Linked DNA regions of Homo sapiens. The protein of the gene in region 3 purifies or fractionates together with the protein of the main gene of each other region. This does not show direct contact. Each region holds a gene or a part of one and is shown on either strand. Other genes may lie near its edges.

What was found. Proteins that work in one complex are often made in the same cells at the same time.
Region 1: the proteins of FASN (region 3) and CARM1 fractionate together in Homo sapiens (co-fractionation; 2 studies listed by BioGRID). This does not show direct contact.
Region 2: the proteins of FASN (region 3) and USP22 purify together in Homo sapiens (affinity purification with mass spectrometry; 3 studies listed by BioGRID and IntAct, with this or other methods). This does not show direct contact.

The regions. Positions count from the first base shown.
Region 1 is NC_000019.10:10,909,542-10,916,561, reverse strand, and holds part of CARM1 (histone-arginine methyltransferase CARM1), read right to left. Parts: intron 4,379-7,020; coding exon 4,268-4,378; intron 2,686-4,267; coding exon 2,508-2,685; intron 156-2,507; coding exon 65-155; intron 1-64. UniProt on the Homo sapiens protein: Methylates (mono- and asymmetric dimethylation) the guanidino nitrogens of arginyl residues in several proteins involved in DNA packaging, transcription regulation, pre-mRNA splicing, and mRNA stability.
Region 2 is NC_000017.11:21,040,003-21,047,762, forward strand, and holds the start of USP22 (ubiquitin carboxyl-terminal hydrolase 22), read right to left. Parts: upstream 3,010-7,760; 5' UTR 2,834-3,009; coding exon 2,663-2,833; intron 1-2,662. UniProt on the Homo sapiens protein: Deubiquitinase that plays a role in several cellular processes including transcriptional regulation, cell cycle progression or innate immunity.
Region 3 is NC_000017.11:82,088,232-82,095,251, forward strand, and holds part of FASN (fatty acid synthase), read right to left. Parts: intron 5,541-7,020; coding exon 5,367-5,540; intron 5,189-5,366; coding exon 4,988-5,188; intron 4,789-4,987; coding exon 4,666-4,788; intron 4,582-4,665; coding exon 4,466-4,581; intron 4,359-4,465; coding exon 4,224-4,358; intron 3,454-4,223; coding exon 2,991-3,453; intron 2,839-2,990; coding exon 2,651-2,838; intron 2,334-2,650; coding exon 2,144-2,333; intron 1,910-2,143; exon of another isoform or gene 1,729-1,909; intron 1,496-1,728; coding exon 1,401-1,495; intron 1,154-1,400; coding exon 1,019-1,153; intron 942-1,018; coding exon 738-941; intron 646-737; coding exon 530-645; intron 332-529; coding exon 159-331; intron 77-158; coding exon 1-76. UniProt on the Homo sapiens protein: Fatty acid synthetase is a multifunctional enzyme that catalyzes the de novo biosynthesis of long-chain saturated fatty acids starting from acetyl-CoA and malonyl-CoA in the presence of NADPH.

The sequences.
Region 1 (7,020 bases), on a different chromosome or scaffold from region 3:
AGCTGGGGCTGTCCCTGAGAAGGCAGGCTGTGGGGCCCAGGCGGGACACCCAGGGCACACTCACCAGAAGTTGGCCTTGGTGAACTGCTCCATGTAGAGCTGTTCATCCGTGAAGGGTGCAAGGTGGACGTCACCAATGGTAGGAAACATGTTTCCTGGGAGTGGGGCAGGGAGGGGTGCTGGCGTCAGGTGACACATCCCACACTGCCTGGCAGAGCTTCCAAAGGACCCCAAGACCCCCAACCCTGGGTGCTCCCAGCCTGTCATCCATTCGTTCCTGCACTCCTGTGACAGTGGCACCGAGCGCCTATTCTGATCAGTGTTTCATCACCACCACGGGTACCTGACCTGCACCAGCTCACGAATTCCACCTGAGACTGGGAGGCTGGTGGCTCATCTTTATGTCCTATTACTAGACCTGGCAGGTGTGAGGGACCTGCCAAAGACTCACGGGGAAGCAGGCAGTGCCCGGGATGTGGCCAGGCGCTGCCTCTCAGGCCCTGCCGTCTGTGCATGTGTGCAGCCGGGAAAGCATAGCAAAGTTGCTCTGGACAGAGGGAGGGTGGTGGGCCCCGGGCTACCCCAACGCCGCTGGGGACCTCAGTTGAGGCCAAGAGCCAGGTGGGGGAAGCCAAATCCACACCACAGGGACTGCCTAGGTTCTGGCACAGGCACCCAGCCGGCAGGATGGGCCACTTGGCCTGCCTGGTCTGGGCACACAGACTGAGGGAAGGGCAGGGCCTCCCTCTGTGACTCAAGGGTAGACGCATGAGTCAGGGCCAGTGGCAGGGAGGATCAGGGCCCCGCAGCCCCGCCTGCCCCAAGGAGCACCTGGCCTCCAGATGTGGGCCCCCCAGCCTTGCAAGCTGGGGGAGGAGATCCTGAGGTATCAGTGGGACTCTGCCTCCTCCTTACGCCACCAGGCTGTACCCGAGGCGAGAGCTGCAGGGCTGCAGCTGCTGGAACGGGGAGGGAGATGCACATGCTGCGGCTTCTGCCCTGGGGGACCTGGGGGCACCATGGGAAGTGACCCAGCCTGGAAGGAACCTCTGGCTCCTGCTGACCAGAAGACATGTGACTGGGAGAGGGGAGGGCTGCCTTTAACCCCTGGAAGAGCTTCCTGAGCTGGACAGGAGTCCTCCTTGCACAGGCCTGGCCTCCCCCCTCCCTGCAAGCTGGCTGCTGGGACGTCGGGGGCACATGCAGCTGCCCACAGAGCCTGACTGCCATCTGGCTTCATGTCCCATCGGGAGGGGCCCTCTCTGCTGGGGCTGTCCCCACCCCCATCCCCACCATCAGGGCAGAAGGGGAGGAGAGTGGGGCCCACAGCCCCTGGAGCAGCCTTGCTTCCCATACTCACACCCAAGACATGAGACACAGCTGTGGGACGCCACCTCCCACCTCCAGGAGCACAGCCAGCCAGGACCCTAGGGCCTGGATCCAGGGCGGGCCAGAGATGAGAGTGGAAGCTTCCCCCCTGCCCCTGCCTGCACAAGCCCCACCAGCCTGCTGCTGCCCACGCTCCATCCCATGGCTGCTACCCTGGCTGGGGACCTGTACCCTGCCACACGCACACACAGCTGCTTGCCTGTACAGAAATGCTCAGACGCTCACATACCTAGCATGAGAAGAGCCACAGGCACATGCCTCAGGCGTCAGGGCTGCACAGACCCCAAGACAGATGGGCAAATAGAAACAGTCACCCAGGCCAGGCACAGTGGCTCATGCCTATAATCCCAACACTTTGGGAGGCTGAGGCGGGTAGATCACCTGAGGTCAGGAGTTCGTGACCAGCCTGACCAACACGGTGAAACCCCATCTCTACTAAAAATACAAAACTTAGCTGGGCGTGGTGGTGCACACCTGTAATCCCAGCTACTCAGGAGGCTGAAGCACAAAAATTGCTTGAACTGGGGAGGTGCAGGTTGCAGTGAGCCGAGATCGCACCACTGCACTCCAGCCTTGGCAACAAGAGTGAAACTCTGTCTCAAAAAAAGAAACAGTCACCCAGTGACCAGAGGCCATACCCAGAGGCACGGATGGGAAGTGACAGATGGGCTTGCCAGACAGCTACCTCACCTCCTCACACACGTACACTCGCACCCACACCCCTGCATTTGCACACATGCTCGCCCACCCCACCTCCTGGACTGTGAGGAGAGCAGGGCTTGTTGGGGAACTGCTGACCACAGAACCTGTCCCAATCCCCACTCCCAGCCAGAGGCTGTCCCGCAGGAGCAGGACATGGGACGGCAGAGGTGCCAGGAGATCCTGTGTACCCTGTCTGGGCGAGTGGGCAGCTGGGTGTCTGGCCGTGTTTGGGGCCCAGGGCTCCAAAAGCCACAGCTGGCTGGAGTGGGGTTGGGGTGGGAGCGGGGGAAAAGCCCAGGCTTCCCTACACCCCGGGCCACCGACAGTAAGCAGGGAGCTGAAGCACTGATGGCCTGGCTCAGCGGCAGCCAGGGCCTCCACCGAGGGGCCTGGCCTGTGTACCCCCCAGTGCTCACCGCTGGGCTTCAGGTACTTCTTGGCGTGGAGGTAGCTCTCCAGCATGCGCTCGTTGAAGAGCATGTAGCCCATGGGCTCCGAGATGATGATGTCCACCTGCTCGGGGAGTGACACCTCCTCCACCTTGCCCGGGATGACCACGATGCGGTCCGTCAGGTTGTTACTCTTCACCAAGACCTGCAGGCGGGCAGGGCCATGTGGGCTTCCCTGCGTCTTCCTGCCATGGGGCCCTCCCTAGACCTGCTCTCAAGGGACAGCCTCCATCCACACATGGGCATTGGGTGCCCCTCTGCCTGCTTCGCTGGCGCCCCAACCATGGCTGCGATTGGCCATAGCCTGTTAAGAGCTCACTGTGGGCCGGGCACGGTGCCTCATGCCTGTAATCCCAGCACTTTGGGAGGCCGAGGCAGGCGGACTGCTTGACCTCATAAGTTGGGAGACTAGCCTGACCAACATGGAGAAACCCTGTCTCTACTAAAAATACCAAAAAAAAAAAACTATTTTTTTTTTCTTTGAGACAGATTCTCACTCTGTTGCCCAGGCTGGAGGTGGTAGTGGCGCCATCTCGGCTCACTGCAACCTCTGCCTCCCGGGTTCTAGCGATTCTCCCACCTCAGCCTCCCGAGTAGCTGGGACTACAGGCACCCACCACCACGCCTGGCTAATGGGGTTTTGCCACGTTGGTCAGGCTGGTCTCGAACTCTTGACCTCAGGTGATCCGCCCACCTAAGCCTCCCAAAGTGCTGGGATTACAGGTGTGAGCCACCATGCCTGGCCTAAAAATACAAAAATTAGCCAGTTGCAGTGGTGGATCCCAGCTATTCAGGAGCCTGAGACAGGAGAATCACTTGAACCCGGGAGGTGGAGGTTGCAATGAGCCAGGATCGCACCACTGCACTCAAGCCTGAGCAACAGAGTGAGACCCCCCCCAAAAAAAAAGAGAGTTCACTGTGACCCCGGCCCTGCCTCAGGGCCGTCCCCTGCTGCGGCCTCCTAGGTCCCCCACCCTGCGTCGACAACTGCTGGTGGCTGCAAAGAGGGGGACGAGCAGACATCACAACAGCCACCAAAGCTAAAGCTGGATGCACCCCCAACCCAGCGATTCCAGGGCTAGGGTGTGTCCTACAGACACAACCGCATGTGGGAGAGGGGCTCAGGACAGCAGCGTTGGCCACGTGAAGACCTGGAAGGAGTCTGAGTGTCGCTGCGGACACAATGCAGCTAAAGCAACAGCGGCACGGCTGGGCACAGGGGTGCTCTGCGGCGGCAAGACAGAACAAAGATGGCCCCTCCACGACCCCGGCGACCCCAGATCCATGGGAGAGGCAGAGCAGGGAATGGAGGGTGCAGCCTCCACTGGTGCGAGAGGACGCTCACGGAATAGCTCTGCTCAGACTTTGTGGCCGTAGCTCCTCTCTCATGATGGGGCTGGGGGTGGGAGCTGGGGTGGGGAAGGAGAGCACGCTGTCTGCTCTTTTTTAGCTTTTATGTTTTGAACTTTGTGAATGAAGGTTTCAGTGCAAAAAAAAAAAAAAGAAAACAGGGAAATGACATGTGGCCCTGACTACCGGCCATGAGAGAAAATCATCTCAGGCCCTGAAGCCCCTCCCTGAAATGACTGTCTTGGGGACAATAAAGAGACCAAAGCACAGAAGTAATGTCCCCAGGCCCCTGGGGGTTCCCAAGCTTCTCTAGGCTGGGGCCGGCATGGCACTCATGGGCGAGGACGAGGCTGGGTGGGCACCAGCGGGCCACTGACCTCAGCGTGCTGGGCCATGGTGCTGGCCTCCACCGCGTAGATTTTCCGTGCTCCAGCTTGGGCGGCAAAAAACGACAGGATCCCAGAGCCACAGCCAACATCAAGAACGATCTGAGGGAGGAGTGGGAGGTGAGAGCGAGACATAGGAGGCGACGGTGATGGGGAGGTGACAGTGATCATAAGGGATGTGCACATCATGAGGCGTCTGTCTTCACTCTCAATGTTTGCCCTTTATGGGCTCTTGGTCAAAATGAAGCGAGAACTCAAGATGAGCCATGGGCCAGTCCTCCGGGAGGAGAAGCCCTGGGGAAGCTCCCGCTCGGCCCCAACCCTGTGGCCTGCAGGCCTCCGGATCGTCTGGGGTGAGTGGCACGGGCCTCCCCTGGAAGCTCACTGGCAGTTGAAAAGCATTTTTCCGGGGCCTCCGCAGTTCTAGCATGGAGGAAAGGGGCCCGAGTTGTTGGTGGCAGTGTCTCCCAGCTCCATGCTGACTCATGCCTGGAGAAGCAGCCCGTCTTGGCTGGGGCAGGTGAGCCGCCCAAGCCCTGGGGCCGGCTGGGCTCCCCGCAGGGCTACTGGCCCGTGGTGGTCACTCATGGCAGAGTCCAGGCCAGGGTCTGGGAGAACACACCACCTGTTCTGGATTTGTGGGATTGCTTCCACACGAGCAGACCAAGGACAGACATTCCTGGTGGTGACAGGCATGAGCTTTTGAAGGACAAATGCTCTGGGCATGGTGAGTGCCTGCAGGGGAAGCTGGGGTCAGGTGGGAAGGCCTCAGGGTACTGATCAGAGCTCCAGATGAACCAGGAAATGGATCTCCATCCTTGGGGAGCAGGAAGGGACTTCACCAACGGAGGACGTCCTTCCCAGACCTCAGTGGCCAGGAGGAGGCTCGGGATGGCCCTGCCAGGGCAGACACTCTTGTGTCAAGACAACTCCTCCCCAGGGCCCAAGGCCTACCATCCTCTGGGACGGTAAGCGATGCTAGGGGGGCGTGACCCAGGCGCTGGATGAGGCAGATCCATGCAGATCCACGTGGAGAGATCCCCAAAATACTTGGAGGAAAAAAACAGGCTCCCATTTGATTCAAAAGAGAAAACAGGCCAGGTGCGGCGGCTCACACCTGTAATCTCAGCACTTTGGGAGGCTGAGGCGGATGAACTGCTTGAGGCCAGAAGTTTGAGACCAGCCTGGGCAACATGGCAGAACCCCATCTCTACTAAAAATACAAAAATTAGCCGGGCATGGTGGCACATGACTGTAATCCCAGCTACTTGGCCGGCTGAGGCACAAAAATCGCTTGAACCCAGGAGGCAGAGGCTGCAGTGAGCTGAGATTGTGCCACTGCATTCCAGCCTGGGTGACAGAGTGAGAATCTGTCTCAAAAAACCCCCCAAAAACAGAAAGAGAAAACAAAAATTCTGAGTAAGCCGGGTGCAGTGGCTCATGCCTGTAATCCAAGCACTTTGGGAGGCTGAGGTGGGTGGATCATGAGGTCAAGAGATCTAGACCATCCTGGCCAACATGGTGAAACCCTGTCTCTACCAAAAATACAAAAATCTGCTGGGCTTGGTGGTGTGCGCCTGTAGTCCCAGCTACTCAGGAGGCTGAGGCAGGAGAATTGCTTGAACCCGGGAGGCGGAGGTTGCAGTGAGCCGAGATTGTGTCACTGCACTCCAGCCTGGTAACAAAGCAAGACTCCATCTCATAAAAAAAAAAGTAAAAATAAAAAAATAAAAAAGGTAGACACCAAAAACTCTGGCAAATGGGATGAGAAGGGAATACATTATACATTTCTACTTTTTTTTTTTAAGACGGAGTCTTGCTCTCTTGCCCAGGCTGGAGTGCAGTGGCACAATCTCGGCTCACTGCAACCTCCGCCTCCCAGGTTCAAGTGATTCTCCTGCCTCAGCCTCCTGAGTAGCTGGGACTACAGGTGCCTGCCACCACGCCCAGCTAATTTTTGTATTTTATTTTAGTAGAAATGGGCTTTTGCCATGTTGGCCAGGGTGGTCTCGAACTGCTAACCTCAAGTGATCCACCTGCCTCAGCCTCCCAAAGTGCTGGGATTACAGGTGTGAGCCACTGTGCCTGGCCGATTTCTACTTTTGAATACAGACGTTCTGCTCTGTTCTCTCTCTCTTTAATCATGAGTGCACATTATTTGGTGATATCAAAAAGCTTATTTATTTTGTTTTTGAGGCAGGGTCTCGCACTTTGGCTCAGCCTGGAGAGCAGTACCCCAATCACAGCTCACCGCAGTTTCAACTTCCTGGGCTCAAATGATCCCCCTGCCTTGGCCTCCCAAAGTGCTGGGATTACAGACAGGTGTGAGCTACTCTGCCCAGCTCAATAAAATAATTGTAAAATATACGCTGATGTCTGTATGGGGAAAAATCTTGAAGAAGAGACCTCATACTGAGGGGTAGCGGCTATCTTGGAGGGAACTGATAGAGGCCTCTCAAGCCTATAATGTACATGCTGTGTTGAGTTTATATATCAAATGCATTTGTTTTTCTTGCTTTTTGTTTTTTTTGTTTGTTTGTTTGTTTTTTGAGATGGAGTCTCACTCTGTTGCCCAGGCTGCAGTGCAGTGGCGCGATCTCAGCTCACTGCAAGCTCTGCCTCCTGCGTTCATGCCATTCACCTGCCTCAGCCTCCTGAGTAGCTGGGACTACAGGCGCCCACCACCACGCCCAACTAATTTTTTTGTATTTTTTAGTAGAGACGGGGTTTCATCGTGTTAGCCA
Region 2 (7,760 bases), about 61 Mb from region 3:
AGCCTGTGCAATATAGTGAGACACTGTCTCTACAAATATTAGCCGGTCGTGGTGACACACGCCCGTAGTCCCAGCTACTCAGGAGAGGCTGGAGTCCAGGAATCTGAGGCTGCAGTGATCACTGACCAGACCATTGCACTCCATCCTGGGTAACAGAGCAAGACTCTGTCTCTACAAAAAATAATTTTTAATAAAATAAAATTTAAAAAACAAAATGTCCTAAGCTTACAGATCTGATGGAAATCCTATGCAGATTGTCCAACTGTTAATCATCAGGTTTGTTAAACTATTTCCCAAACCAACTCTTCCTTAACTGGGCCACTAGAGAGTGCTAGAAATGCAGGACACCGCACATGAAGTGATACAGGTAAATAAGTCCCCCCAGTCAGAGGAAAAAGCATGGAGGGCTTAAGGGCTCCTTGCTGGCACACTGCCAACTGGCACTGCAGCAGCCCCCACCTAAATTTTGAAAGAAATATTTTTCACTACCCGACTACAGTTCAACTTCTAATTGGTGAATAACATACATGTGGCTCAACAGTTTTGAAACTAAGCAACTGACATCTGAAATTAAAAGATTAATCAGAGCCATAAGTAGCGCAAAAAAAAAAAGTAATTCTTAACTTTAGGAAATTAGGCAAAGTTAGTTAATGATGGTTTAAACTTGACTCCTTCTATTTGGTTAAAAAATACCAGAGGGGGGAAGAAAGGGAGAGGGAGGGAGGGAACGGAAAAAGAAAAGGAGGGAGAGGAAGAGTGGGGCGGTCCCCACTTCATCCAAAGTAGTAACAAATCTTGGGCGCGTCACGTCCCAATCCGGACACTACTGACCCAGAGTAGCAACAGCACATTCCCTGTAGAAGACTGGCTTCAACCAGGCCACCCTTTTTTTTTTTTTTCCGGAGGGGGTCTTGCTCTGTCACCCAGTCTGGAGTACAGTGGCGCGATCACTGCTCACTGCAACCTCCGCCTCCCGGGTTGAAGTGATTCTCCTGCCTCAACCTCTGGAGTAGCTGGGATTACAGGCGCCCGCCATCACACCCGGCTACTTTTCGTATTTTTAGTAGAGATGAGGTTTCACCATGTTGGCCAGGCTGGTCTCGAACTCCTGACCTCGTGATCTGCCCCCCTCGGCCTCCCCACGTGCTGGGATTACAGGCGTCAGCCACCGCGCCAAGCCAGGCCATCTTTTCTTAAAGACACACAATTCTACTAGCAAGACTCTAACTCCGATCCTGAAACGTTTTATGTCTGATTTTAGTTCATCCAGACATAACGCTACCTGATACCATTACAGATAAAAAAAATTTTGAGGCCGGGCACGGTGGCTCATGCCTGTAATCCCAACACTTTGGGAGGCAGAGGCGGGTGGATCACCTGAGATCAGGAGTTCCAGACCAGCCTGGCCAACATGGTGAAACCCCGTCTCTACTAAAAATACAAAAATTAGCCGGGCGTGGTAGCAGGAGCCTGTAATCCCAGCTACTCAGGAGGCTGAGGCAGGAGAATCGGCTGAACCCGGGAGGCGGAGATTGTAGTGAGCCGAAATCGCGCCACTGCACTCCAGCCTGGGGTACAAAGCGAGACTTCGTCTCAAAAAAATAATTTTTTTTTTGAATTACTGCTTAACATACCCTACAATCTCAGCGAGCCTGTTGGTATTCCCATAAATAAAAAAATGCCACTCAAGGTGGAAACTGCCCTCACAACTCCCAATCTCGGATTGTAATCTACAAAAGCGCGTGAAACTGTAAAAATAAACTTTATTCACATAGAAGAATCACGTTACGTTTTGATTTCCAAACCCTTACCAAGCCTAACTGCGGGACGCAAGACTGGGCTCCCCGAGGGGACTCACTCCTGGTTAAGGCCTCCCACAGCCCACGGCGCGCTTCCAAGTCTACTCCTCAGCCGCAACGCAAACCCGGGCTGTGGCTCCGCACCCACAGGCTCGCCCCGGCCCCAGCCCCTGCCGCCCTCCACCTCCAGCTCCTCGCGGGCCCCGAGGCAGCCGCGAAGCTCCGGCCCCGCGCCCCCCAGCCCGCCTCCTGCCCCAGCTCCCGTCCAAGGTCGCTCCTGGCGGCGGGTGACCGCTGCAGACCAACGCCCAGAACTCGACAGCCCCCCATCCTTTACTCATTTTTTTGAAATATTTCTTTCTCTGCACCCGCATCCAGCCCCGAACCCTCCAGAACCAGGAGAGTTCCCCGCAAGGACCTCGCGCAGGAACGCCCGGGACCGCCCACCGAAGTCCCAGGCTCCCCAGGCAGCAGGGCAGGAGAACACCACCCCCGGCCCGGAAGCACTCGCCCCTCCCGGGCCAAGAAGGATAAGGGAGGGGGAGGGCGGAGAGAAAGGAGGGGGAGGGGACAGAGAGGAGGGGGAGGGGACAGAGAGGAGGGGGAGGGAAAGGAAGAATGGGGGAAGGGGGGAGAGGGGAAGGATAGGAAGATGAGGAGATAAGGGAAGGGAGAGAGTTGAGGGGGGAAGGAAAGGAGGGGGAAGGGGTAAAGAGAAGAGAGGGCAGAAGGAGAGAGGAAGAGGAAGGACAGGGAAAGGCAACGGGGGAAGGGAAGAGGGCAGGAAAAGGGCCCCTCCGCCGGCCGGCCTCAGGAGCGGCAGAAGGCCCCGAGCCCGCCGCGCGGTGGGCTGCCGGGCGCACCTTGCGCTTGCGGGCCTCAGCCGTGCCGCTCCACACGAAGCACTGGTAGATGGCCCGCAGGTTCTGCTTCCAGTTGTCCACCTTGAAGCTGCCCAGGTGCGAGCAGCCCGGCGGCGCTACCGCCAGCTCGGCGTCCATGGCCTCGCCCTCGGGCTCTGGCCGGGACACCATGGGGGGCAAGGCCCGGCCGCGCGCGGGGGGCGGCGGCGAGGGAGGCGAGGACGACGCCAGCGCGGCGTGGGGGCTGCTCGGCGGCTGGCCAGGCTGGCCAAGGCCCGGGCGCCGAGAACAAAGCGCGGAGGCCGGACAAAGATGGGGCTGCGCGATCGCCGAGGGGAGGCTGCAAGGCAGGCACCGCCCCCGAGCTGCGGCTGCTGCGGACCGCCTGCGCTGCGCTCTCGCGGTTCGCGGAGGGTGTCGCGGGGCGGGGCGCCGCGGCCGCGGACGGAGATTACGTCACCCCCCCCCCCCCTCCCGGCCGGCACCGCACTGCGCAGTCTCCAGCCCGCGCCAGGCCCTTCCCCCACACTCGCGCGCCCGTTAGGCTCTGGGTAGACCCGCGCCCGAGGAAGCGTGGTAGGGGGGGGAAGCTAACGAGGGCCCGCCCCTCCCCTTCCTTTATTGGTAGTAGGCCACCCCCCCCCCCCCCCCGGCACCTTCGGCTATTGTCATAGGCTCTCAGTATAGTCCGTCTGGTACAGAGCCGCCTCCCGGGACCCTGGCGGCTAGACGTTCCCTGTCTCTTCCAGAGGACTGGGGAGGCGGGGGCGTGCTGCGGTTGGGCGGCGCGAGACGTCAGTCCTAGCACTGAACCGGTTTGCGCCGGCCTGAGCTCTGCCGCAAAGAGGCGGGGCGATGAGCTGGAGCGCCGCAGGTCGGGCCTCCATCCAGGGCCTGCGCTTTCCCACCCAAAAGCACCCCCTAATCGGGAGCTGTTTGCAGGGCCCCCGGTTGCCGTAACCTGGCTCGGGCCCTGCAGTGCCGTGGCCCGGGGCTGGAACTGCCTGCCAACTGCCTGGTAGGCGCTGCCCCCGGCCGCAAGCTGGGGCGCCTCCTGTCGGGAGCCCGCTGATAGTGAGGGCCAACCCGGCGCCATCCAGTTTAAAGAGGCATCTGCGCGCCACACGCCTGACACTTCACATTTGCTAGTGGCTACATTTTTCTAATGAAAAAAGAAAGTTACAGTAATATATCTCAACCCAATAAAGTCAAATTATTTCAGCATGTAGGCAGTATTGCAAAATCGTTAGTGGAATGTTTTACAGTTTTTGCAGCAAGTCTTGGAAATCTGGTATTTACACTTAAAGCACATCCAATTCCTACTAGCTGCTACCGCAGTGGGCGGCACAGGTCTAATCGGTATACAAATAACTGACCCAAGGCAAACTGAGAAGACATTTAAAGACGAATGCAAACGAAGTTCTGGGGGAACCAGGGCGCCAAGGGTCTGGGGGAACTTGGATAAGGTGTCAGGTGTGGAGCTGCTCCCCTGTACTCATCCCGCTGCTAACTGCTTTGCTCATTCATTCATCCACAGATTGCAGGAAACAGCAATTGCCGTCCAGAACCATCACAAGTTAAAAAATAAAGATTGTGATCTCACAACACTTAAAGCTACAGGGTTTAATGGACTGACGACTGGGATAAAGCTTTTGTGGCCAAGACAAATTGCCGAGCACAGGTTTTTGCCTCATGGCCTTCGTGCTTGCAGTACCCTCTCCCTAAAATGCTTTCCCTACCCCCTCACCCTCTGCATCCTTATATTCCATGTCTGATGCTCGCTCACCTCCTTCCAGCTTTATCACACACCTCCTTTTCCGTGAAAAGGAAAATTGCCACCCTAATGAAAATTGCAAGCCCCCCAAAATTCTCCATTCCCTTACCCTGCTTTGTTTTTCTCCAAAGAATTTATCACTATCTGGCGTAATGAATATTTACTTATTTTTTTTATTGTCTCTTCCCTTAATAGCATGAAAAATTACGAGAGGGTAATCTTTTTTTTTTATTTTTTATTTTTGAGACAGAGTCTCGCTCTGTTGCCCAAGGCTGGAGTACAGTGGTGCAATTTCGGCTCACTGAAACCTCCGCCTCCCAGATTCAAGCGATTCTCCTGCCTCAGCCTCCCCAGTAGCTGATATTACAGGCGCCTGCCACCACGCCGCTAATTTTTGTATTTTTAGTAGAGAGGGGCTTTCACCATGTTGATCTGGAACTTTTACTAGAAATGGGGTTTCGTCAGGCTGGTTTTGAACTTCTGACAGCAAGTGGTCCACCAGCCTCGGCCTCCCACAGTGCTGGGCTTATAGGCGTGAGCCACTGCGCCTGGCCTCCAAGAGGGTAATGATATTGTGTGTTTTATGTACTACTACAGCCGCAAGTTCCCAGAACTGTATTGGCTACATGCAGGTACTCGGAATTACCCGGTGAAGCCCTATAGTAGTCCCAGCTACTCCAGAGGCTACGGCAAGAGGATCGCAGAGCCCAGGAGGTCAAGGCTGCAGTGAGCTGTGATTGTGCCACTACACTCTAGCCTGGGCAACAAAGCAAGACCCCATCTCTAAACAAAACAAAACCCTGCCGAATTAATTAACCCGAAACACATTTACAGAAAAATCTAACGAGACCATTTCTAGAATAAAACACTTGTTAAGGAAAACCATGTTTATGTTAGAGGAAAGAATGTCAGCTTACAAAAAACTAAAATCCTAACTAGTAAGTCAGGAATTACAAAAATATGTGATCCATCTCTATAAATATTGATGTAAGGAGTTTTCTCATATTGTTGGGCTTATACAAATATGATTTGGCTTCACAAATGTGCACTTAGCATTCAGGCCCTAATATTTATTATCTTTTTTTTTATCAATACGATCATCTAAGCACAGAAGAATATCTGTGCTGTCCACTTGAATCAATTATAATGATTTAAATGTTCCATAATCAGAACAACCTTAGTGATTTTAAAAAATTTAAACTACAGAATATACTCTTGAGAAGCAGTCCCCAAAAGATGTATGGATGAAGTGCTTTTTTTCTAATGGGAAACAAATGGAAACGTTAATGACGATTAATAGGAGAATCATTGAATAAATGATGGACTAGCCATTCTAGGGAATAGTACACAGCTATTAAAAAGAATGAAGTCCAGCTTGGGCAATGTGATGAAACCCTATCTCTACAAAGAAATTAAAAAAAAAAAAAAAAAGCCAGTTGTGGTGGTGCACGCCTATAGTCCCAGCTACCCAGCAGGCTGAGGCGGGAGGATTGTTTGAGCATAGGAGGTCGAGGCTGCAATGAGCCCTGATCATGCCAGTGATTCCAGCCTGGGCAACAGAGAAAAAAAAAACTAGATCTGTAAGTACTAGTACAAAAAGTCATAAAACATAAATGAATACAACAAATTGCAGAAAATTACAGAAAATATGCTGACGTTTGTAGGAAAATAATGGAAGGCCTGGAAGAAAGAAACACACCCATCAATAACAGTAACTTCTGGAAAGGAAAAGGTAGATGTGACTTAATCTGTAATGTTTGAATGTTTTCTTACAATGAAAATTAATATATTCCTTTGTATTTAAAAATCACTAAAACTTAAAAAGAAATGACAAAGTGTCATGGTACGAGGGAACACACTGTTCTACAACATGTAGAAAACAGTGGCCCACATGTTCAGTATATGCATTTATTCATGTATCCAAGAATCAAGTCAGATTGCTAAATTACAGTCAGGCTCTGCCACCTACTATCTGTGTAACCTTGGGCGGATTGCCTAAATTTCTCAGCCTGTTCACTTATCTGTTAAAATTGGGAGAATATCAGCTCTGTGCTTACGTTGAAGTGTATGGCAAGGAATAAATGAGATAATCCATACAAAACTCTTAGCAAGTGCCTGTTGTTAATAAGGGCTCAAGAAACATTAGCAGTTATTGATCTGATAGTTGCTGGCAATTGAGATGATTACAACAATTTCTTGCTTCAAGAATCCCAGGAGGATGGGAGAGGAGAATTTTTTTTTTTTTAATTTAAAAAAAAAAAGGCCGGGCATGGTGGCTCACGCCTGTAATCCCAGCACTTTGGGAGGCCGAGGCGGGCGGATCACAAGGTCAGGAGATCAAGACTATCCTGGCTAACATGGCGAAACCCCGTCTCTACTAAAAATACAAAAAATTAGCTGGATGTGATGGCACCATTGTAGTCCCAGCTACTCAGAAAATCGCTTGAACCCGGGAGGTGGAGGTTGCAGTGAGCCAAGATTGCACCACTGCACTCCAACCTGGGCGACAGAGCAAGACTCTGTCTCAAAAAAGAAAGCCAGGTGGCCTATGCCTGTAATCCCAGCACCTTGGGAGGCCAAGGTGGGTGGATCACTGAAGGTCAGGAGTTCAAGACCAGCATGGCCAACATGGTGAAACCCCATTTCTACTAAAAATACAAAAATTAGCCAGGCGTGGTGGTGCATGCCTGTCATTGTAGCTACTTGGGAGGCTGAGGCAGGAGGATCACTTAAATCTGGGAGGTGGAGGTTGCAGTGAGCCAAGATCGCGCCACTGCACTCCAGCCTTGGTGATACAGTGAGACGGTGTCTTAAAAAAAAAAAAGAATCCCACAGTGTAGTGTGCTTAGTAGCAATATTGCCAGCAACATTAGCGGGATGTTATAGGAATATAAAACTGCAGCGATAAAGGAAAGTCTAGGTAATATCGTAATACTCCAAGACACCTCTTTACCGTAATCCTCCCCAGACAGGTATGGTGGAGGAGATCTGGAAATGTTTTTTGATGCCTTACCTAGGTATGGAAGACAGGGTTTTTTTTTTGTTTTGTTTTGTTTTTTTGAGATGGAGTCTCGCTCTGTCACCCAGGCTGGAGTGCAGTGGCGCAATCTAGGCTCACTGCAAGCTCTGCCTCCTGGGTTCACACCATTCTCCTGCCTCAGCCTCCCGAGTAGCTGGGACTACAGGCGCCCGCCACCATGCTCGGCTAATTTTTGTATATTTAGTAGAGATGGGGTTTCACCTTGTTAGCCAGGATGGTCTCGATCTCCTGACCTCGTGATCCGCCCGCCTTGGCCTCCCAAAGTGCTGGGATTACAGGCGTGA
Region 3 (7,020 bases):
CCAGTGGCGGGGAAGAGGACGCGACCGTCGAGGGTGTGGTCCACCAGGTAGTGGTCAGGAGACTCGGAGCTGGTGTCTGCGGGAGGGCACAGGCCTCAGCACAGAGCGGGCGTCTGTGGGGAGGGAAGAGTCTGCCCACCCGCCGGGCCCCTGCTCACCGATGTTGTAGATGGCGGCTGAGGGGGAACCTGAACCGTTGGGGAAGTCCTCGGCGGCCGGCACGTCCCAGGCCAGGCTGTGGTCCCACTTGATGAGTGGGGAGATGAGGGGAGTTCCTCGGGGAGCTGGGAACTCCACAGGTGGGAACAAGGCATTGGGGTTGGCGTCGATGCTACGGAGAAGGGAGGCATGGGTAGCACACCCGTCACCGGGGTCCAGGGGCTCTGGGTTCAGCCCACCCACTGCCTGCGGTGGACCATCCAGGGCTGCTGCCACCGGCCTGGGTCAGTGAGGGGCCCGCAGCCCCGCTCACCCACCCCACGCCGTCCCCGACTCCGGGAGACGAGACCCGGGCTGGGAAGGGACCCACCCTGAGAGGTGCAGCCTGCCGATGCCGGCCAGGAAGAACTCCAGGTTGTCCCTGTGATCCTTCTTCATCAGGGGGATGATGGTGCAGCTCGGCTTCAGGCCACGCTTCAGGACAGCCTGGGGGCGGCAGGGCAGGTGGGCTCTCTTGGTGCTCAGCTGAGGCGCCCATCCCAGGCTCCCGGCGCCTGCTGCCCCCAGGCTGGGCCTACCTGCAGCAGGGCGTGGGGCGCGATCTCCAGCACCACCGCGTGCTCAGGCACGTGCCACAGGGCCTCCTGGAACAGCACAGGGCTCACCAGGTTGTTGACATTGTACTCGGCGGAGGACGTGCGTGCCAGGCTGCTGTGCCACTGGGCCTCGGGGATAGAGGTGCTGAGCCAGCGGGCTGAACGTGGCTTCGGCTCCCGGATCACCTGCATGAGGGGCCAGGTCAGTGCTGGGTTGTGGGTCCCCTGGCCCGCCCCGCACCCCCCAGGCCGTATTAGTCCACCTTCTTGAGCTCCTGCAGCAGTGGGGGTGCGATGGCCTCCATGAAGTAGGAGTGGAAGGCCATACCGCCGGTCCGCACCTCCTTGGCAAACACACCCTCCTTCCTCAGCTGCTCCACGAACTCAAACACCGGGGCCTGGACATCGTGGGAGCCTGGATAAGCATCCTGGCTGGGCACCCACCTCAGGCTCGGAGAGGTAGGGCGCACCCACCTCACCCCAAGGGAACCGAGAGGGAATGGGCAAGGGACCTGAGGACAAACCTGCCCCATGCCCCAGGCCCGTCAGAGCTTGGTGGGGCGTAGACCGTGGCCGCGTGTCCCTGCCAGACTTGCAATGGCAGGCGCAGGGGACAGAGGAGCCCGCCCAGGCCGCAGCACCCACCTGAGGTCCCGAGATGGTGACTGTGTCCTTGGAGTTGTGGCAGGCGGGCACCACGCCCGGGGGGCAGCGCTGTTTACACTCCTCCCAGGACAAGCCTATGGCAGAGCCAGCCTCAGAGGCTTAGCGTGGACACCGAGCCGCTCCCAGCCACCCACCCACCCAGACACTGCCTGCAGCTGGGGGCAGTAATGACAAGTGTGGTAATGGCAGCCTTGGAGCCTTCATGAGAAAGGTTCGCCCCCTGCTGTGTTTGACCCGTGGGTGGAGGTGTCATTACAGAGCTGCCACTCCAGGGGCAGCTCCTGGGAGCCCAGTCCCCAGATGGTGGCCCCCTCAGTCCTCTGCAGCCAAGGTTCTTTCCAGGTCCTGCCCACATGTGGCCCATGGGGCTCAGAGATGGGTGCCAACAGAGGGCACCAGTCTGAGGGAACCCTGATGACCCGTGTGTTGGCTTCACCAGAGCCCCTGGGTTCTTGCTATGCTGCAGCTGTGTGCTCATCACACGGGGGCTCCACGCAGGCCTGATGCCCATGGACACGTGCCTAGGCCCAAGGCTGCCAGGTGTGGGGCCAGTGGGGCAGCTGCAGGGGACTCGCGCACGGCTGTGTCCGAGCTGGGTGTCCCCGGGCCAGCGGGGGCCACTCTATCCTACGGGGGCCAGGCCAGGGCTGCAGGTGAGGACCCCACAGCGAGAAGGCAGCCTCCTTTCTTGGAGGTGCTGGGGGCCCCTCCGGGAGACCTACCCACGGCTGCCATGGCGCCCGGCGGGAGATGGGCTTCTTTGATGCACTGTCCCCTCCAGTAGGCAGCGAGGACGGCCTCCTCCTGGGACAGGCAGCCGTCGGCGTAGCCACAGGCCACCTCCCCCAGGGAGTGGCCGACGATGCCATCTGGCCTCAGCCCCATGCAGCTCAGCAGGTCTATGAGGCCTATCTGGGGTGGGAACAGGACACTCAGGTTGCAACCTCCAGCAGGTGCAGCTGTTGGGGGCGGCCCCCGGCCCCACTAGGCCATCTCCACCCCCGCGCCCCATCGACCCTCCCAGGTCTCCTGATAGGAAAGAAGCCCCTATGGCCCCCACACAGCCCCACTGAGACCCCTCCTCCCCTCCCGTCCTGCCCCCAGCACAAGGCTCTGCCTAGCAAAGGGGCTGTCAGGGGCCCCGGACTCAACACTGCAGCTCCTGGGCTCCAGGGAAAGCCAGAGCCCTGGGGCTGGCGTTGCTCACACGCTGGCAGGCTGGGCCCTACCTGGATGGCAGTCAGGCTCACAAACGAATGGACGATGTCATCAAAGGTGCTCTCGTCTGTGCTCAGCAGCAGCTGTGACACCTTCAGGCCGAATGGCTTCACAGCCTCATCGGAGCGTAGGATGGAATCTCGGAAGCGGTCCAGGCGCATGAGGCTCAGCCCCATCCCGCGCCACTGTGTGCCCATCCCTGTCCCAGAGAGCACGTCACGAGGCTCAGCCCCATCCCGTGCCACTGTGTGCCCATCCCCGTCCCAGAGAGCACCTCAGGGGACCACCAGCTCCAGTTCGCCTGCCTTTCCCCAGGGAAGGGACCACCTTGGGGGCAGAGTGTGGGCTCACCAGAGCAGATGAACCAGAGCGGGCGCTCGCCAGCGGGCACCTGCTGCACCTCTGGGCCACCGCGCTCACCACCCAGCACAGCGTAGCCACGGAAGGGCATGGCGGTGGCGGGGACAGCCGCGATGTCGTTCAGCATGCTCAGGAAAGCCAGGTCCTGGCTGTGCCGGAGGCCCTGCTCCAGCAGCTTCTGCACGGCCTCAGGGGTGCGTCCGCTGGCCCGCAGCAGACGGGGCAGGGTGGCATGTGGGGCGGGTGCGGGGGGCGGCTGCGTGTTGGGCCTCAGGATGATGTGCACGTTGGAGCCCCCGAAGCCAAAGGAGTTGATGCCCACGTTGCCGCCACGGACGGGCAGGGGCTGGTCCACCACCTGCAGCCGCCCATCCAACAGCGCTGGGATCTCAGGGTTGGGGCTATGGAAGTGCAGGTTGGGGGCCCAGAGCCCGTGCTCCAGGGACAGCAGCACCTGCGGGGGTACGTGGTGGATGGGCAGCCGCCCCACTCCCTCTACCACTGCCTGAGCTGGGGGCAGGCACCTCCCCGAGACTCTCATGTGGGGCCAGGGTTCCAGGGCCCTCTCCGATGCACTTCCTGTCCCCAACCTAATTCTGCCATGGCACAGGGGTCCGAGGACTGAGCCGCCATGGCCCTGCCCTCAGCTTGGTCCAAGACCTCCCCTTCCGGCCTTGCTGCCTCCCAGCCTGATGTGGACCCACCAAAGCCTGGCTGTGGCCTGAACACTAAGGCCCCCTTGGCCCAGATGTTGCATCTCAGAGGCTGCAGAAGTTGGGGGGCAGAGGGCGTGAGTGATCATGGGTGTTGGGGCTCCTGTGCCTGGTCTCTCTAAAGGTCCCCAGGCCTCTGCTAGTGGGTCAGGAAGCTGTAGGGACGGGTGGGCGACACGGGAGACCCTGATGGTGCCGTGGACCCCCCCAGGCCTGCTCCTGCCTCGCTCTTCCCACCCAAGCGGCTCCTCCAGCTCGGCTCCGTGTCCGGCAGACGCTCTGCAGGGCATCAGGCCTCCAGGGAAGGCCCAGCGAGCCTGGCTACGAGCTCTCCCTGCTGTCAGCCTCAGTGCCTCTGCTCAGACCTGCAGCATAGCCCGGGGGACAGAGGCTCCTGGTGGGGAAGCCCCCGCCTCCACTTGGCAAAGAGAAAGCAGCAGTGCCCAGCCATGGCGCAACCCAGTCCCAGGGAGCAGGAGCCTGAGGGACCCCCAAGCCCAGCCCCACCTACCTTGGCCAGGGCTGCCAGCCCCGAGGCTGGCTCCGGGTGCCCCATGTTGGACTTGGTGGAGCCGATGAGCAGCGGCTCCTGGCGGGTGGCGCACAGGGCTCGGGTGATGCCATTCAGCTCCTGGGGGTCGCCCACCTGTGGGAAACATGGGGGGTGAGGGGCTCTGGCCAGGTCACCTCTCCAGGCATGGGCGTAGGTTAGGCTCATGGGGTGGTGAGTGGGGCGGGGGGGGGGGGCATCACCTTGGTGCCTGTGCCGTGGGCTTCGATGTATTCAAATGACTCAGGGGCCACTCCGGCCGACTGGTACAACGAGCGGATGAGCTGCTCCTGGATATCCCCTGAGGGGAAGGTCACGCCTGCGGAGGGCTCGGCTCAGTGCTGCAGCCCCAGCCCCGGCTCCCACCTGCCCCCCAGCACCCCGGAACCCCGGCAGAGCCCACCTTGCTCCTTGAAGCCATCTGTATTGGTGCCGGCGTTCAGGATGGTGGCGTACACCCGCCGGGCCAGGGACTTCTTGGTCAGCAGGACGGCCACCACACCCTCCGAGCGGCAGTACCCATTCCCTGGGTAGAGCAGCACCTCAGGCCCGGGGCTCAGCCCCACGCCGGCCCCCACCCCACCAGGAGGAGCTCTGGGGTGTGGGGTGGGTGCTTGGGTGGGGGATCCCCGGAGCTGGCAGGATCCTGCTCAGCGTGGGGACTGTGCGGGGGGCCGTCCTGTGCCACTGTCCCGCCTGCCCTGGCCGCGCAGCCGCACACTCACCCGCTGTGTCGAAGGCCTTGCAGGTGCCCTCGGGGCTGAGCATCCCCAGCCTCAAGAACTGCACGGAGGTGTTGGGCTTCAGCAGGACATTGATGCCCCCCACGATGGCGGCAGGGCACTGCCCGCTGTGGATGGCCTGGTAGGCGTTCTGCAGGGCCATCAGGCTGGAGGAGCAGGCTGTGTCCAGTGCGATGCTGGGCCCTGCAAGGAAGGGTGCTGCGGCTCAGGTGGGGCTGTGAGCACACGAGACCCCTGAGCACACCTCCTGCCACCAGGCTGGACACACACTGCACGGAGTGAGCCCACGCCACGTGGTTTCTGCTCAGCATGTGGGGACCTGAAGGCCACCCACCTCCGCAGGAGGCTGGGCAGGACCCACCTCTGAAGTCGAAGAAGAAGGAGAGCCGGTTGGCCATCATCGCTCGCTGGCAGCCCACCATGCTGTAGCCCACGAGTGTCTCGGGGTCTCGGCTCAGGGCCTCCGAGGTCTCAGAGCCGCTCACGCCCACCCAGACGCCAGTGTGTGTTCCTCGGAGTGAATCTGGGTTGATGCCTGCCACAAACAGTGGTCAAGGTGCCACGGCCGGGCCCCACAGCGCAGCCAGCCCACCCACCCACCCGGCTCTGGGGCGAAGGTCCCATCTTGGCCTCACTGGCTTGGGGTGAGGGGGGGTCCATCCCAGTGGGACCCTGGAAGGGGCCTAAGGAGGGTGAGGTGTCCTGCAGAGGGGCCAGAACAGAGCCTGTGGCCAGCAGCCAGCCCAGGTGAGGCCTGGAACAGGAACCAGGTCACAGAGGGAACGAGGCGGAGGGGGCAGGCGGGCCCAGGGGAGGGCACCAGGCACGGCCAGAGTGGCTCCAGGAAGGACAGAGGGCAGCATTGTCCCCAGGCGACGCCTTTGGCCCCTGGTGTCACCGGCAGCTCTGATGAGCCCGTCGGCCAGTGGCCTCTCCAGCGCCAAGGGCAGCCTGCACCAGAACAGGCCGTGATAAGGAACCGAGGAGACAAAGGCCAAGTGTCCAGGCTCGGGAAGGAGAGAGGGACACCGGTCACCCCCGGGGAGCATAACCTTAGTCTTGGGGTGGGGTCTGGCAGCAGGAAGGGCGCAGGAGAAGGGCTTCCACCTCTCGGCCAGCAGGGCCCCTCCTCGCCCCTGGTGGGCTGGCTCTGCCCTAGGGTGGGTGGGTGTGTGAACCGCTCACACCCAAGGGCAGCCCAGGGCTCAGCCTCCCCCTCAGGAGGTCCTTCTCCGCCCGGGGAGGGAGCACCTGGATCTTAAGAAATGGCATGGCTGGGCGTGGTGGCTCATGCCTGTAATCCCAGCACTTTGGGAAGCTGAGATGGATGGATCACGAGGTCAAGAGATCGAGACCATCCTGGCAAACATGGTGAAACCCCATCTCTACTAAAAATACAAAAATTAGCCGGGCGTGGTGGTGGGCGCCTGTAGTCCCGGCCACTCAGGAGACTGAGGCAGGAGAATGGTGTGAACCCAGGAGGCAGAGCTTGCAGTGAGCTGAGATCGCGCCACTGCACTCCAACCTGGTGACAGAGTGAGACTCCGTCTTAAAAATAAATAAATAAATAAAAATAAAAATAAAAAAACGGCGTGGCGCTTGTCCGAGGTCAAATGCCAGTCAGAGCGAGGGCCAGGCTGGCGGGAGAGGGTTGAAATGCCTGGGGTGGGGGGACGTGGGCAAGGGTAGTGGGGAGGGTGGGAGGGGAGAGACAGCAGGGCCGGTGCTGTCCGCTGCTTGGCTGGTGGGGGTGGGGGCCTGGAGGGCCCCTCAAGAACCTCCTGCTTTGCCTCTCGTCACTCCAGCCCCGGCCCCGGCCCCAGCACCAGCCAGACATCAGAAGCGAGGAGACTGGTACGCTCAGGTCAGGGCACACCCGCGACACCTCTGGGGTGCAGTTGGGAAACTGCGGCCTACCCCGTGGCCCACACCTCCCTGAGCCCGTTGGCCAGGCCAGGGGCACAGCCGGGGAGGGTAGGTGGTGCCAGCACCTGGTTCTACCAGAACCAAGAAGA